Linked DNA regions of Homo sapiens. The protein of the gene in region 1 interacts with the protein of each later gene in a pairwise test. Each region holds a gene or a part of one and is shown on either strand. Other genes may lie near its edges.

Region 1 (7,836 bases):
TTAAAAAAACACCTAAAAGTCAAGCTGAATACCATTGACATGTTTTGATTTGAATTAAGAAGAGGATTGGTTGGAAGTAAAATTCAGGTTGATCCTTAAACAGTATGACAAGAAAAAATTATTTCTATTAAGAAAACAAACTATTTGTTTCTAACTGTCCCACCAGCCACATTCCAAGGACAGCGGATTCAGGTTGTTGGAGATTCTTTTCTTTCCTGGCCTTAGACATATTTAAAATGAGGACTGAGGAATCAGTGAGGGAATACAAGATTTCTATGCATAAGAAAGGCAGAAGGAGCTCAGAGAGCAGCTCCAGGGAACTGAGAACTGGAACCAGAGCTATAGAGGGCTCTGTGGGGTAAGGGCTGGGAGGCAGAGAGATGTAGGGAGGGTGCCTGGGACATGCAGTGTGCTCTCAGTAAATTCATTTGTGTGTTTAATATTTACTGAGTACCTAGTATGTTCTAGGCACTGTGTTATGTGCTAGAAATATGGCAGGAAAGAAAGAAATGAAGGAAGGAAGCCCTGTTTTCAGGGAGCTGATGTTCTAGCTGTGGGACAGAGATGCTGAACAAATATGTGCATTGGTGTTAAGCAAAATAAGGCAAAGTCAAAAGACAGGAAGAGGCAGGTAAGGTGCTGTTTTAGACAGTGTTTTCAGGGGAGCTGTCTCTGATAAATTGCATTCAAGTAGAATTTTCAAAATATAATTATAACTCTCATGCAAATATAAAATGAACACATTAGTTAATGAGGAAACTAAAAAGACATTAAGACTGTTCAAAGAGCATTTGTGTAGCTACATACTTACAAGCAATTTTATAAAGAAATACAGTAAGATTACTAGATTAGATTTTAAAATGAGAAATGCTCTCTAGTGCAATAAGAATAAACTTTGGGGTTAACTTTTCCACTGGACAGAAAGATTTGCATCTTTGTTGGACAAAAATATACAAGTTAGCCTGTGATTTCAATGCCCCAAATCTTTAAGAGTCTGAACAGGTGACATTTGTTCAGAGACCTGAGTGACATCAAGAGCAAATAGGTGAGTAGATGAAGAGTGAAGAGGGGAAGGACTGAGTGTCAAACTCCCTCCCATCTCTCTCCTACTCCATTCACTGCAAAATATTCCCTTCTCATTGATATTTGGAGGAGTGGGTTTACCTTGGGGAAATGAAAGGAAATACAGAGTCCTCTAGGCTGATGAATGATTATAGAGGATACCCTGGAGCTCAGCACATCTGGACATAAGATTAGGGAGCAAGGAACAGGGTGGGAAGGCCAGCAAAGACTCAGAGGTGAGGACACTGGGAAGAGGGTGGGCCAGCAAGTAGCTGTGTTGACTGCAGAAGATTTCACGTACTGGTTGAAGGGACTCATCTCTACTCCTCCTGTAAAAGGAGGAAAAACATAGTTATGAACTCTCGAGGGATAGTGTGAAAGGCAAGAGAATCCTTCTGTCTTTCAAATCGACATCCTCAGCATGTTCTCCCGCTGTCTCCTGGTGCTTGGGTGGCTGCTGCTGTTACACCCACAGCCATTTCCTTTAATAGGGAGGAAAAACCTTTCCTAATCCACTGTCTATCTTCCTCCCAACTTCTGCTATGTCTCACCGGCCAGAACTTGTGACCACCCTAGCGGGAAAGTAGGCTCAGAAAGTGATCTTTTTGATTTCTTAACTTCTTTATCGAAGGTGAACAAGGGAGAAGGGGGTGAGGAGTGGGAATGGATGTTGGAGCTAGTAAACCTAGGGTCTATGTGTTGTATTTCTTTTCTAATTCGGTCTCGAGGTCTCTCTCTGGGAGTGGTTATAAACGTTAGCTCTTCCGTGATGGGGCTTGGATATTTACAGTGTGCCTTCCATGGAATACTTCTTTATCCTGGCAGACGGCCTAAATCCTAGGTGTCTGACCCATGACAGGAGGTCCCTCTCACAGGAAGCTTGTTTATATTAGCAGGCACATTTGTGGCTCTTGTCTGCCCCGTGTCTGGTTTATTCCAACCAAGACAGCCACTCTCTAGGAGAGCCCTAACCAGGAAACAAGTCAGGTGTGGGTGTATAGGTCAGGTGAGACACAGAGGAGGTGAACAAAACATGTGAAATAATAGAAGCAGTTTCATTACTTACAGATCCATAATAAGAGGACAGCATGCCTCACAGGGCCAATGAGAAGGGGGACACACATGCTCAACCAGTGGGAGGGGGACGAGACAGAGAGAGGGACTTGCGGGCCAAAGCCTTCACTGTGGTCCTGGGTCCAACATCTTAGTCCCACTGTGACTAAGAGGTGGTCACTGAGGCATATCTGCAAAGTATATGTGGGGTATAGGGGTCAAGGGGATGAAGCAAGCAGCTTGTACCTGATGGTTCGATAGGGAGGTGGTCACCAGAGGCGGTCATACAAGGCAGATGTCTGGACTGACCACATAGAGGAAGTGGGAGGAGGCACAGAACTAGAGACTGTCCAGGGTGACTAAGCCCTGCTTCTAGTTTGAGAAGGTTAAACCTGTCCTCAGAATGGATAGTGAGGCCTTTGATATGTTCTCCCACCTCTTCATCAAGCATATTGACAAATCCTTTTTCACCAACTTGTCTTGCTATAACCGCCCAGTAGGTTCACCTTGCCGTCTGCCTAGATAGAGCCAATTTATCAAGACGGGGAATTGCAATAGACAAAGAATTCATGCAGAGCTGGCTGTGTGGGGGGCCAGAGTTTTATTATTACTCAAATCAGTCTCCTCCAGCAGTCGAGTTTTTAAAGACAATTTGGTGGGTGGGGAGGGGCAGTAAGTCAGGGAGTGCTGATTGGTTGGGTCGGAGATGAAACTATGGGGCATCACTGTCTTCTTGAACTGAGTCAGTTCTGGGTGGGGGTCACAAGATCAGATGGGCCAGTTTATCATCTGGGTGTTGCCAGCTGATCCATCAAGTGCAGGGTCTGCAAAACATCTGAAGCACTGATCTCAGGAGCAGTTTAGGGAGGGTCAGAATCTTGTGGCCTCCAGCTGCATGACTCCCAAACCATAATTTCTAATCTTGTGGCTAATGTTGGTAGTCTAGACCCCAGGCAAGAAGGAGGTTGGTTTTGGGAAAGGGCTTTTATTGTTTTTGTTTTAAACTGTAAATTATAAACTAATTTCCTTCCAAAGTTAGTTCAGCCTATGCCCAGGAATGAACAAGGATAGCATGGAGGTTAAGGACAAGATGGAGTTGGTTAAATTGGATCTCTTTAACTGCCTTAGTCATAATTTTGCAAAGGCAGTTTCATTGCTACCTGAATGATTTTCCTAACTTATCCATCAATCTCCTGGAAGCCTTTCTCCTTAACCAATGTCTTCAACTCTGCCAGACATGTGGCAGCTTCTTCATCAGCAGATGTGGCCTCTCCAGTTATTTTTATGTTTTTCAGTCCAAACCTATTCCTGAATCTGTGTAGCCATCCCTTACTTGCAGTAAATAGCTTGGTGTGCCTAATTTCAGGGGATCCCTTTCTTAAGTCTTCCTATAGGCTCAACACTTTCTGGCAAAACTTACTGCGGTCAGCTGAAATACGTTTTCTGTTCATGTCTCCCACCCACAAATGTAATGCCTTTTCCGTCTTTTGCTGTTGCACCTCAAACTACAAAAGTTACAGCCACAGTGCATGATAGGTGCTTAGTTAACTAGCACGAATCTTTTTCCTTCTTCACAATTTCATGGATAATTTGTTCTTATCATAGATTTTGGCAACCTCAGCATATGACTCTTTTTCTTTCCTTATTAAGTCCAGAGCTTTCACCTTTTCATTTAAAGGAAGCACTTTACAGCTTCTCCTCGGCATATCCAAATTGTCAGCACAATTCCTGTGCTTTGCGGCCATTATTAAGTAAAATAAGGGTTACCTGAACATAAGCAGGTGGTATCTCTCATTATCTCTGCTATACTACGGGTGCATCTGTTAACCAAAGCAGCTACTGAGTGGGTAATGAGTGGATACTGTACACAGCGCGGCTACCTGCGACAGATGATTCGCGTCAAGGGTGGGACAGAGTGGATGGCCCGAGATTTAATCGGGCTACTCAGAATACAGGCGGTTTGAAACTTAAGAATTGTTTATTTCTGGAGTTTTCCATTTAACATTTCTGAACCAAGGTTTGACCACAGGTAACTGACACTGCAGAAAGCATGGAGGGGGGCAAAACTACTGCATTAATATTAAAATTTTCAAATATTACTTTTTGCTAAATGAAATGTGATTCAGGACCTTCCCTCTCAAAGATCAAGCGAGATCACCACGACCTCCGCCAGCAGCGGCTCTGCACGACTCCACCCTCGCAGCCCAGCCAATCAAAGCTACAGGTTGAGTGACGTCACTCTCCTGAAAGTCCTCGCTAATTCCCGTACTCCTTTTCTCCGCCCTGCACCTCTACTGTTTGCTACAAGTGGCCAGCAGCCATTTTGGATTTGGGCGGAAATGAAATTAAAACTGTGCTGTTAAAAGCCTAAAAATTCAAGTCAAGACAAACTTAAGCATTCGACCAACACATCTAGAAAGGGGGCATCTTCGTGGACTAACTAGACCACTGGGGCAGTGAGTGAAACTCGGTATCGTCGCGGCGCCCACACTTAAGATGGCACCGGCCTGAGACTCAGCTGTGCGGCCTCTCTACCTCGGTTCCTGGTTAGTTGGCCTCATTGGTGGCGTCGGAGGGAGGAAGGTGGGCCTTCTGTCCCGTTTCCGGACCCGTCTCTATGGTGTAGGAGAAACCCGGCCCCCAGAAGATTGTGGGTGTAGTGGCCACAGCCTTACAGGCAGGCAGGGGTGGTTGGTGTCAACAGGGGGGCCAACAGGGTACCAGAGCCAAGACCCTCGGCCTCCTCCCCCGCCGCCTTCCTGCAGGTAACAGGGAGCCCTGCGCTGCGCCCCCAGTCCTTGCAGGACTGCGCCGTGGGGGAAGGGGCCGGGCGGGGAGGAGGCGGCGGGCGCGCGCCCCGCTCGCGGGTCTGCGCTCTGGGGCCCGCGCGGGAGCGAGCTCGGCGCGGCGCCGGCGGCCGGTTGAGCTGTGCTCTCAGCTTCGGAGCAGCCTCCCCTTGCTGATTGTGGGGCGCCCTGTAATCTGCGCTTCGCGGGCGGCCCCCGACGGGTGAGGCGCCCGCGGCCAGAGCTCTCCAAGGCGGCCGCGGAGTCGGTCCTCGCAGGGAGGTGTGGAAGGTGAGGGGCCAGCGAAGCGAGAGCGGCGCCTCGGCCCTTCAGTGACCCCGCGGGGTCGCGGCAAGCAGGGCGAGGGTGCTCGGCTGGGCGGGTCACTGTCCCGGGGCGGCAGTGCCCGAGCCCGGGGGGATCCTGGGGGCGCGCCCGCCCTCGGGAAGGCGGCCTCATTCTTGATCCAAGACCAGTGCCCGTCCCCCAAGGCCCAGCTGGCTCCTGTCTTGGCATAGTGCTTTCTGTTTAGAATAAAGATGAAACATTTCTCGGAAGAGCATATTCAGGAATCCATGTGAAATTCTCGGAGTCGGGTCTCGAATTTTGGGGGTCACTGTTAACTGCTGTTTTTAGGGACCCATGTTCTTATAAAATGTATCTTGAGCTGAAATCACAATTATTTTGGTCCATAAAGACTTAATTGTGTATTGCTTGTCAGCTAGCAATGCTGGACTGAGTTCCGCAGAGGGAATATATACCTGAAACACGAAAGCAAGGGCCGGAGTAACGTTACCGCTGGATACCAGAATATCAGCCAGTACAGTGCATCCTTAATACTCAGAGTGCAAGCCATTATCTTTGGAACTTTCAAGCTAAGGGAGCTAGGACCAAGGTAGTCTCGAGTAATTGCTGGGAAAAGAAAATATTTGGTAGAAACATTTCCATAGAGCACACGGGTTTCTTAGTTGAGTGTATGAGTTGCCCTTTGACCTAGACAAGGGTTTTCTTAATCTACAAGCGGTCCAGAAATTTTATGTGCTGCCCAAGTAGGCAAAAGAGTGGAGGGAGATTATTAAAGGGAAGACTGATGCATATTCAAGTCAGAGACTGTCAACTCAGCATTTTATTATAGAGTGGAGATGCTAAGTGCTACGAAATACCTATTACGGGATACTAGGATATCCTTTTCTACCTTCTTGTGACTTTTTAATTTCAAAGCTAATGAGCAAGATTTTGTGTTTTCCCCGTCCTCAAAACAACAGGAAAGCATTTTGGAAGGCCAAGTGTTTTTCTTACATTTCAATAAATCAATTTTAGCTGAATTATCATTTTTAAAGCACTGGCGGGCATGGTGGCACATGCCTGTAATCTCAGCAACTAGGGAGGCTGGGGAGGGCAGGTAGCTTGAGCCCAGGAATTCCAGGTTACAGTGAGATAGGATAGCGCCAATGCACTCTAGGCCAGCAGCAACAGAACAAGACCATATCTCTATTTAAAACAAAAAACAAACAAAAAAACTTCTTCATATAACAGTATTTGTGCTTCTTTAGATATATTAGTGTGAAGAATTACTGCTTCAAAACATTCTCAAATTGCAATAATCAGCACACCTTTTTAATTTTCCCCCAATAAAGTTTGCACTGGGAACATACAATATAATCTTACCACTGTCAGTATTACACTGATGGTATCAGTGGACTTCTGTCAAAGTTAACATGCTTTCAAAACAAGAAAATGGCATCCTTTCCAGTTCTCTCAAGAAATTGAGTCATCCCTTTTTAATTTTTAAGTGATTTTTTTAGTCTTAGACCTAAAATACAGTAAGAAAAATGAATTTTAACTACTTCCTAATGCTTTTATAACTTTGTTAATTATAGTGGAATTCATATGAAATCTAAGGTTAATAGCTATTGCAAGGCCAATGTTCCCACAAGGAAGTATTTTGCTATTTAGAAATAGCTAAGTAAATTAAATGTTCCTTTCTCTTGCCTCTGGTGACTGCCATTCATCAGCCAGAGCACTGACCCTGAATCCTGGTGGCAGTCTTATCTCCCATGAGGATTAATATTAACACTTAAATAAACAGCATGATTTCCTGCGAAGAAGATATTCATTAATATACAGTCCCTTATTCTCTGCTTTTCTCTTAATTGTGTGTTGATTTTGGAAAGCTGTGTTTTGTGGGTGAGAGAGAGACGGTCAGACTAGCTTCAGATACTTTCAAAGTAACACTTCTGTAACTCACTCTTCCAGTCTGACTGGCTTTTCAGGCAGGAGTTGGAGACCAAGTAGAGCTTTCTGCCTATGAAATGGCAATTAGTTTCAAAGAACATAGACCCATTCAAGTTACCTGAGGAAAAGGGGGCTGGTTGTAAGGGTGTCAATGGGATGTTAGGGTATCTGGGTGGAATTAGATTTGAGGCTGGGCTTCCGGTAGTCTTGAGATGGATAGTAGTAATGTGCCCCCTAAGTATGACTAAGCTACGGTCCCAGTGTTTGCTTTTTAAAATTTTACTACCAACTGACTTCCTCTGGAAAGTTTCTGACTTCATGTGGCTTTGGTTTGCCGTAGCTCCACCTCCACCTCATAGCATCCTTCTACCTTCGGCTATGCTTCTAATAGGCAAAAATTGTTCTTAGTTCAAATTCCTGGGGGAGACAATGATCTGGCCAGTTTATCTCTTCACTCAGGCCATGAAATTGATGGCTAATTTGTGAATTAACCGCCCTTTGGCCCAGGATAGGTACCTGCCAACATTAACTGTGCCCAAGAAGAGGTGGCAAGATCAAGTGCTAAGCATAATCCTCCCTACTCAGCAGGAGGTTGTGACAATCTGGCCAGCACTCTATCTCCAGAACAGAGGGATTAGCATTGTTGCTTTTACCCATGGTCCCACATAAACTTTTTATTTGTAGTCCCAGTAGAAAGGTG
Region 2 (7,276 bases), about 95 Mb from region 1:
ACCATCTCCTGGCCTTATCTCCAGATAAATATCCCTGCTGCCTTTAATATTATGGCATGATCTAAATCTTTCACAACCCTGGTAGCCTTTGAGGTAGTATGTTTTTCAGATTGCTTATTAGTCCCTTCTTAAAATTTGGCACTCTGAAATAAGCACAATAATCTGGATATCTGAAAGTGCTGAAGTGGTAGAACTTGTCTCCTAAGACAGCCTCATTACCTTGCAGTCAATTAAAACACTGTGAACCCTAGGTCTTTAGAGAAGCTGCAGTATCATCAGGTCTTTTCCATCTGCTTCTTCGTACAGGTGATTTGTTAATTATGAAACCTTTAGGCTTACAGAAGAATAAGTACCCATGTATCAACCACCCAAATTAAGAAACAAAATAAAATATGTGCAATGAAGACATTTGCCTTTCCCCTCCCTGAGTTTCCTCTTGCCTTTTATGGTTACTTGCTTTCACTCCTTAAATTTTTTGAACTTCCGGTGTTATTTAAAATTATTTTCCGGCTAGGCACGGTGGCTCACCCCTGTAATCCCGTCACTTTGGAAGGCTGAGGCGGGCGGATCACAAGGTCAAGAGTTTGAGAACAGCCTGACCAACATGGTGAAACCCCGTCTCTACTAAAAATACAAAAATTAGCTAGGCATGGTGGCTTGCACCTGTAATCCCAGCTACTCAGAAGGCTGAGGCAGGAGAATTGCTTGAACCCGGGAGGCGGAGGTTCCAGTGAGCCGAGATCACACCACTGCACTCCAGCCTGGGTGACAGAGACTCTGTCTCGAAAAAAAAAAAAAAAAGAAATAAAATTATTTTCCATTTCCCTGGTCTCTCTGATAATCTTGACACAGCTGGCCATCTCGTTCTTGAATTCACCCCACTTCTTCAGCTTCCATGCTTCTTCTCCACCCGACTCCTTCCTCAACTCTGGCTGTTACTACGTCCCATTTAAATAGCACCTCTTACCCTGCTCTCCTCTCTGAAACCCGTTCTTCACCTTTTATACCCTATGATCTCTTTCTAAAGGATCTTATCTAATTTCATGGCATTAGATCTCTTTGCTTGAGTCCTGTTCATTCTTTCAAATACCTGTTTGCATAGTTAACTGCCACCATCACTGCATAATTAGCACAGCTAAAAGGGTCCAACTTCCAATCCAGCTTTCTTTTGACTTTCACATTCCTGTCAATGGCACCATTCCCAAGATTACTTTGACTTGAAATTTATAAGTCACTGACTTTTTTGAGAGAGGATCTTACTCCATCACCCAGGCTGGAGTGCAGTGGTACTATCATGGCTGACTGCAGCTTCAACCTCCTGGACTTAGGTGACCCTCCCACCTCAGCCTCCCAAGTAGCTGGGACTGCAGGTACACACTAGCATGCCTGGCTGTTTTTTTTCCTGTAGAGATGGGGTTTCACCATCTTGCCTAGACTGGTATCAAACTCCTGTACTCAAGTGACATATTTGCCTTGACCTCCCAAAATGCTGGGATTACAGGTGTGAGCAACTGAGCCTGGCAGAGTCATTTACTCTTTGACTCCTCTCTGCTTCCCCATTGCAGTTACCAATTCTTTCTTGTCTTTCTAGCATCCATCAACTGTCATCAGTGTTCACTCAATAAAATGTTTCTCAGCTGGGCATGGTGGCTCATTGCCAATAATTCCAGCACTTTGGGAGGCCAAGGGAGGAGGATTACTTGAGTCTAGGAATTTGAGACCAGCCTGGGCAACACGGTGAGACTCTGTTTCTACAAAAATTTAAAAATTAGCCAGGCGTGGTGGTGTGCAACTGTGGTCCCAGTTATTTGGGAGGCTGAGGTGGGAGGATCACCTGAGACCTGGAGGTCGCTGCAGTGAGCTGTGATTGCGTCACTGCACTCCAGCCTAGGCCACCCATGACCCTGTTTCAAAAAGTTTCCCAAATGAATTCTACCCCAGTAAAGTGTCTCTTCAGAAACAAACAAACAAAAAACAAACAACAACAACAACAACAACAAAACCACACTACGTTGCTGGGCATTCCAGCCTTCCAACTAAGCTGCTTACCTCTATCTAGTCTCTCCCAACTCCAGTTCTTCCCATGTGCTGTGACTAGCCCTTTCTTCCTAAAATCACATATCATGGCTTTTACCTGCTCATAAGAGAACTCTGCATTCACAGGCCTCTCCAACTTTAACTCCAACAATTTCATTTCCCACTATTTCCAAACATAAATTCTACATTTGAAAAAACTTGCACTAATTCATCACTTTTCAGCTTTGTTCACACCAGTTCCTCTCCCTGGATCTTTGGCAAAGGCCATCAGCAGCCATCACACACACAATCATAAAAAAAGTAGGAAAAACACTGACCTTAGAGCAAGATTTATCTTGGAACATGTTTAGCCTGAGGATCTTAGGGTTGCTGTGAGTACTGAATGAAGTAACATGAGCAAAGACTCATTTGACAAATGGTAGCCTAGCCCAAGCAGGATAATCATTACATTTTAAAAATTTGATTTAGAATGTGAAGAGACTTAAAATGAAAAAGCAATGTTTTCACATTTCTTCACACACAAAAAAACACCAATGCATACTTATAAATACCCAGAATTAGAACTTTTTGTTTCTCTTGATTGACCTTTAAGTTAATCACCTGTGGCCAGGTACAGTGGCTCATCCTGTAATCCCATTACTTTGGGAGGCTGAGGTGGGAGAATCACTTAAGCTCAAGAGTTCAAGATCAGTCTGGGCAACATAGGGAGACCCAATATCTATTTTTTAAAAACCTTAAAAAAAAAAAAAAGTAAAGTAATCACCTGTATCACACGTCTGCTCAAGCCTGTCCTTTCTGCCAATTTCTGGAGTGTCTGTGCATCTGGGTTGTTGTCCTGAGCAAATTGTGCTTGCATAACCTGTTGTTTAAAACATGTATGTAGTAAATAGCTAAAAACAAGCAGCTCAGTCTTCTTCCTGCATTTTTATCATAAGAGGTAAGACATGCACAAGAACATGGGATACTTTTGTTACTTGAAAATCGGTATGGGGAAATATGGGTAAGTGAAAACGAATGCATATTTTGTAAATTTATACACAAGTTGCTATGCTGAGAACTTTAAAAAAATCCATTTCAATGTAAAACTCTCTCAACTATGCTGTTAAAAATAAGCTCACCTTTTCTTTTCTTTCAATCTTATAACCCACAAATCAAATAGCAAGAGTTTCATTTATTGTTTTTTCCATTTTGTTAAAAACTGCCAACATTTGAAAACTTAATACAAAAATCATATCACATTTGTCTCCAACCTTTCCTGAGCTAAAGATGTTCAAGGCCCCTAATACCTAATAGTATACAGATCAACAGAAGGATTCCACTTAATTGTAACAACTCCATCATAGTTTTGAGCACTAGCTCTATGCAAAAAAAAAGGTGTCTAAAAAGAGACACTCACCAGTCCACTGAATAAGAATTTACCAGAGTCTAAACATGTATATATTTTAAAAGCTTACAGGTGATTCTGATGTAAGCCTTTGGATTGAAACCACTATGCCAAGTGCTAAGAGATAGTGAAACATGAAACAAAACTCTTTGGATTTAATTTCCTGGCAGAAAGATGCCGACATGCCAATGACTACCTATAATAAAAGATAAAGGGAGAAGAGTAGTGTGGGAGAGAGTACCAGAATATAAGCACAAGCCAAAAACTTTGAATTCTTTCAGAAAAGAGAATCATTATGAGAATTAAGTGAGATACTTGAATTTTATTACTAAAAGTCAGTCAACTGAGGGAAGCATTACAAAATGTAAAAAATGTATTATTATGAAGAATGAGAGAGAAGAGCTTGGCACCCAATGTGATTGTGCTTGTCTACAGGCATAGGATGTGGGTAACCAATCTATTAAAGACCTCAAGCACTGCTGGACTTCACTCTTTTCAGCAGGCAAAATTAATTGCATTCTCCACTATGCTCCTCATATAATGCTATCTTCTGCCACTGCACTTGTCACAGGGTAGCTAAATAATTTGTTTTCAAGTTTATCTCCATAGTGGAAAGTGAGTTCCTTGAGATCAAGGGGAATGTCTTATTTTTCGTATCCCTAGGAGTTAAACTCCCTTTCTGTCAGAGAGTATGTTAAGAGTTTCTGACAGAGTAAAACTTGGCAATGTAAGGAAAATCTGAAGACAGTGTAGAAAAAAAGGCCAATATTGTTCTGGGAAACCTTCTGAGGTTTACAAATTTTGAGATTTACAAATTTACCCTTCTAGAATTAAGTATTCTTGGCTTCCCATCTAACTATATTGTATCTACAGACTCACTGTAAACAGAACATGGATTTTTGCTTTTAAAAAAGGGCAGAATTGGCTTAAAAGTTTATTCTTGCTCAGTTCACTTTATTCTTTCTTTCCTACTCCAAATGTGTTACTTTGGTATCTTCCTGTGAAAATAGAGTTATGTTTCTATGCAGTTGAACATGTAATAACCCCAAAAAGAACGAGCAAATTATGTCTTTGTTTTTTAATTTTTCAAATAGAAAAATGTTGAACAGATTTGGGGATTTTGTAAGGTCATTATTAATAATTTACAAAACAGAAACTTCATGCCTTTCATAAATGCATTTTTAAATTCACAAATTTAACTGCAATCAAATTGTATTTAGTTAAGTAATTTCTCATTAAAGAGTAAAGCAAAACAACTCTGATCATTTAGAATTGAAATATTCTAAAGGAAAAGTAAGATGAGTTGATTGTTCTTCCTTTCAATAGTATCAATGATTAGTCTCACACACACAAAAAGAAAAAAGAGGTACTTTTAATTTCTACTTAGTTTCACTATTCTCTAGGCACTAATGCTGCTGAAGCCTACTTCACTCCTTTTCCAAGTTCTTCTAACGTGGACAAGGAGTGAGCCTCTGTAGACACTCATCATTTTTAGGCCAGGAGATCTACCAGAAAAGTCAGGAGGCTGCATAGCAGTAACTCGATCTGAAAACAGACTAAAGCAGGAGCTAACTTTGGCGTGTTTAATATTAATAATCACTAAGTGAGTGCTTCTACATAGAATAAGCAATCCATAATATTAGCAGGAAATTCTTAAATATCATTTCTACAAATGGGACGGTATTTGAAATATATTTGCCAATACATCCTCTGAGTCTTAAACTATTTTTTCTCCCCATAAATCTCTATAGAATAATTTTGGAAAATTTTCTTATTTATCCCTTCCATTTTAACTCTCCTCTGTCCAAAGCAGGTACTGACTAGATAGTCTTGACTTACTCACTGGTCACATGTAATATTTTATTATCTTGCCAAATTCAAGCTCTAGTTGAAAATATTCAGCATTCCTAAATGTAGGAGAGTTTGACAATAAGGATACCGATTTATTAGAGTGTCTGGCTAAAATAAATGATTCAGTTTTTTAAAATATCTATTTCAGATTCCTAAATTATAAAGAACCACTTTAGGACAAAGATTGTATCTCATTTGTTTCAGCCACCCCTTCCATAAGATAAAATGCTAATAAATATTGAATGAGAATATACTTTGAAAGCATATTACCTATGCTTTCATCAGTAATCTGAAAATGGTAATATGCTTTCATTTTTTAAAACCTATAATTCTGATATACAATTTTTAAAACTTATGATTTAGATCACATTTACATACCATAATGTAAGGCTTAAATATTTTATGCATGTTTAACCATAAGGCTATCTACAAGATTCAAAATCTCACTCTTTTGTTTTAGCTGCTGCTGCTATTAATTGGAGTTTTGATAAGACAGACTTCCACTCATGGTCTCCTGGAAGATCAAGCAAAATGAAGAGACCAGATGTTTGAGGAGAAGGTTCCAAATCTCTTCTCAACCACTCCCTTGGTGGTTTGCTTTGAGGAGTTCCTGCACTCTTGAATGAGGTTTGTTGTAAAAGTTAAAGGAGATAAAGTAGATAAATGCCTGGTATAGGATTTGGCATAAAAAGACCTCCACAAATATTATTCCCATTTTATTTAATTAGTATTTGTAATTATTTTCCCATAGAAAAGTGTCTATCTACAGTGGTTTCAAATTTTCACAATTTTATTTTTAATAATAAATTATTATATCAAATGAAAGTTATCAACCTTGTAATTATTAAAATTACAGCCAGTCCTTCATGGGAACAGACCATTGTGAAAACAGATTTATATTAGAGATTCTATTTTAACTAGACACCTTTAGTGACTGAGTATTTTTCCAGGTCTTTCAGAAGTACTCACATCTTCTGACAGGGCATTGTGTGATCTTCATAATAATCCAATGAAGAACCCAGAAAGCAAGGCTCAAACAGAGATATTTCTTTCAATTGGCTTATCTTTCATTTTTTGCTTATTGACTATGTACTTTATGCCTAAATTAAGAAATCGAATTTATGCCTAAATTAAGAAATCTGAAACAATCATCCATTTGGAAAATTCTTCTGAATGGATCTAGATTTTAATGCTAGAGTGCTTCCCATTGCCACGTTCCCTTGGAATATGTGTGTCACATCAAGGTTTCTTTTCTAAATCATTCTCAAAATAAAAATTATCTCCTGAAACACTTGTATCCATCTTAAATACTGGCAGGTCTTAGAATACTAAACGTGATTTTCGAAAAAGTTACTTTTATTCATTTGTTAACACTGCATAAATGTCCTTTAAAGTCTGAGCTAAGATGGATACTATGTATAAGGTACCCAGCAGTGTGATAGGCGTTCAACAAATGTTACTTTTCCTTAACATGAAACAAATACCTCAGCCACATTAATCTTTTAGAAAATATGATTTCATTATCTGCAAAAATGCCAGAAGGAATCATTATATAGGTTTATAAAGCAAAGAGTAATTTAATTATTTTGATAATTTGTATAAATCAAATTTATAACAATCATGTTTAGGGCAACTAAGCTAAAAAAAATCCCTCCCTTTTCAGGGGACATAATAAAACTTTAATATCAAATTATAGAAGTACTCCCTTTACCACCTTTAAAAACATAAAGGAATCTGCTCAATTGTAGTCAACCAGTAGTTTCCTATTTACTTTAAGGCACTTTCAATTATTTCCTACTCAAAAACTGTACAATTGTGTTCATTAAATGACTCATTGCAGTTTGTTACAAAGACTAACACATTAGCGTCCCATAGACTCACATGGGACATGTATGTCTCTCTTCAGAGTCTCAAAATATTTTGTCTTCCATTGCAATTATGTGTAGTAATATAAATGCCTGGTTCAGAACGATGCAATCAGGAAGTCAGGACAAAATACTTTGT

Evidence for each region.
Region 2: the proteins of SCYL3 (region 1) and LHX8 interact in binary tests that used the Homo sapiens proteins (3 or more experiments, as listed by UniProt).

What each region holds. Positions count from the first base shown.
Region 1 is NC_000001.11:169,890,832-169,898,667, reverse strand, and holds the start of SCYL3 (protein-associating with the carboxyl-terminal domain of ezrin), read left to right. Parts: upstream 1-4,771; 5' UTR 4,772-4,880; exon of another isoform or gene 4,881-5,192; intron 5,193-7,836. UniProt on the Homo sapiens protein: May play a role in regulating cell adhesion/migration complexes in migrating cells.
Region 2 is NC_000001.11:75,144,207-75,151,482, reverse strand, and holds part of LHX8 (LIM/homeobox protein Lhx8), read right to left. Parts: intron 2,897-7,276; coding exon 2,801-2,896; intron 1-2,800. UniProt on the Homo sapiens protein: Transcription factor involved in differentiation of certain neurons and mesenchymal cells.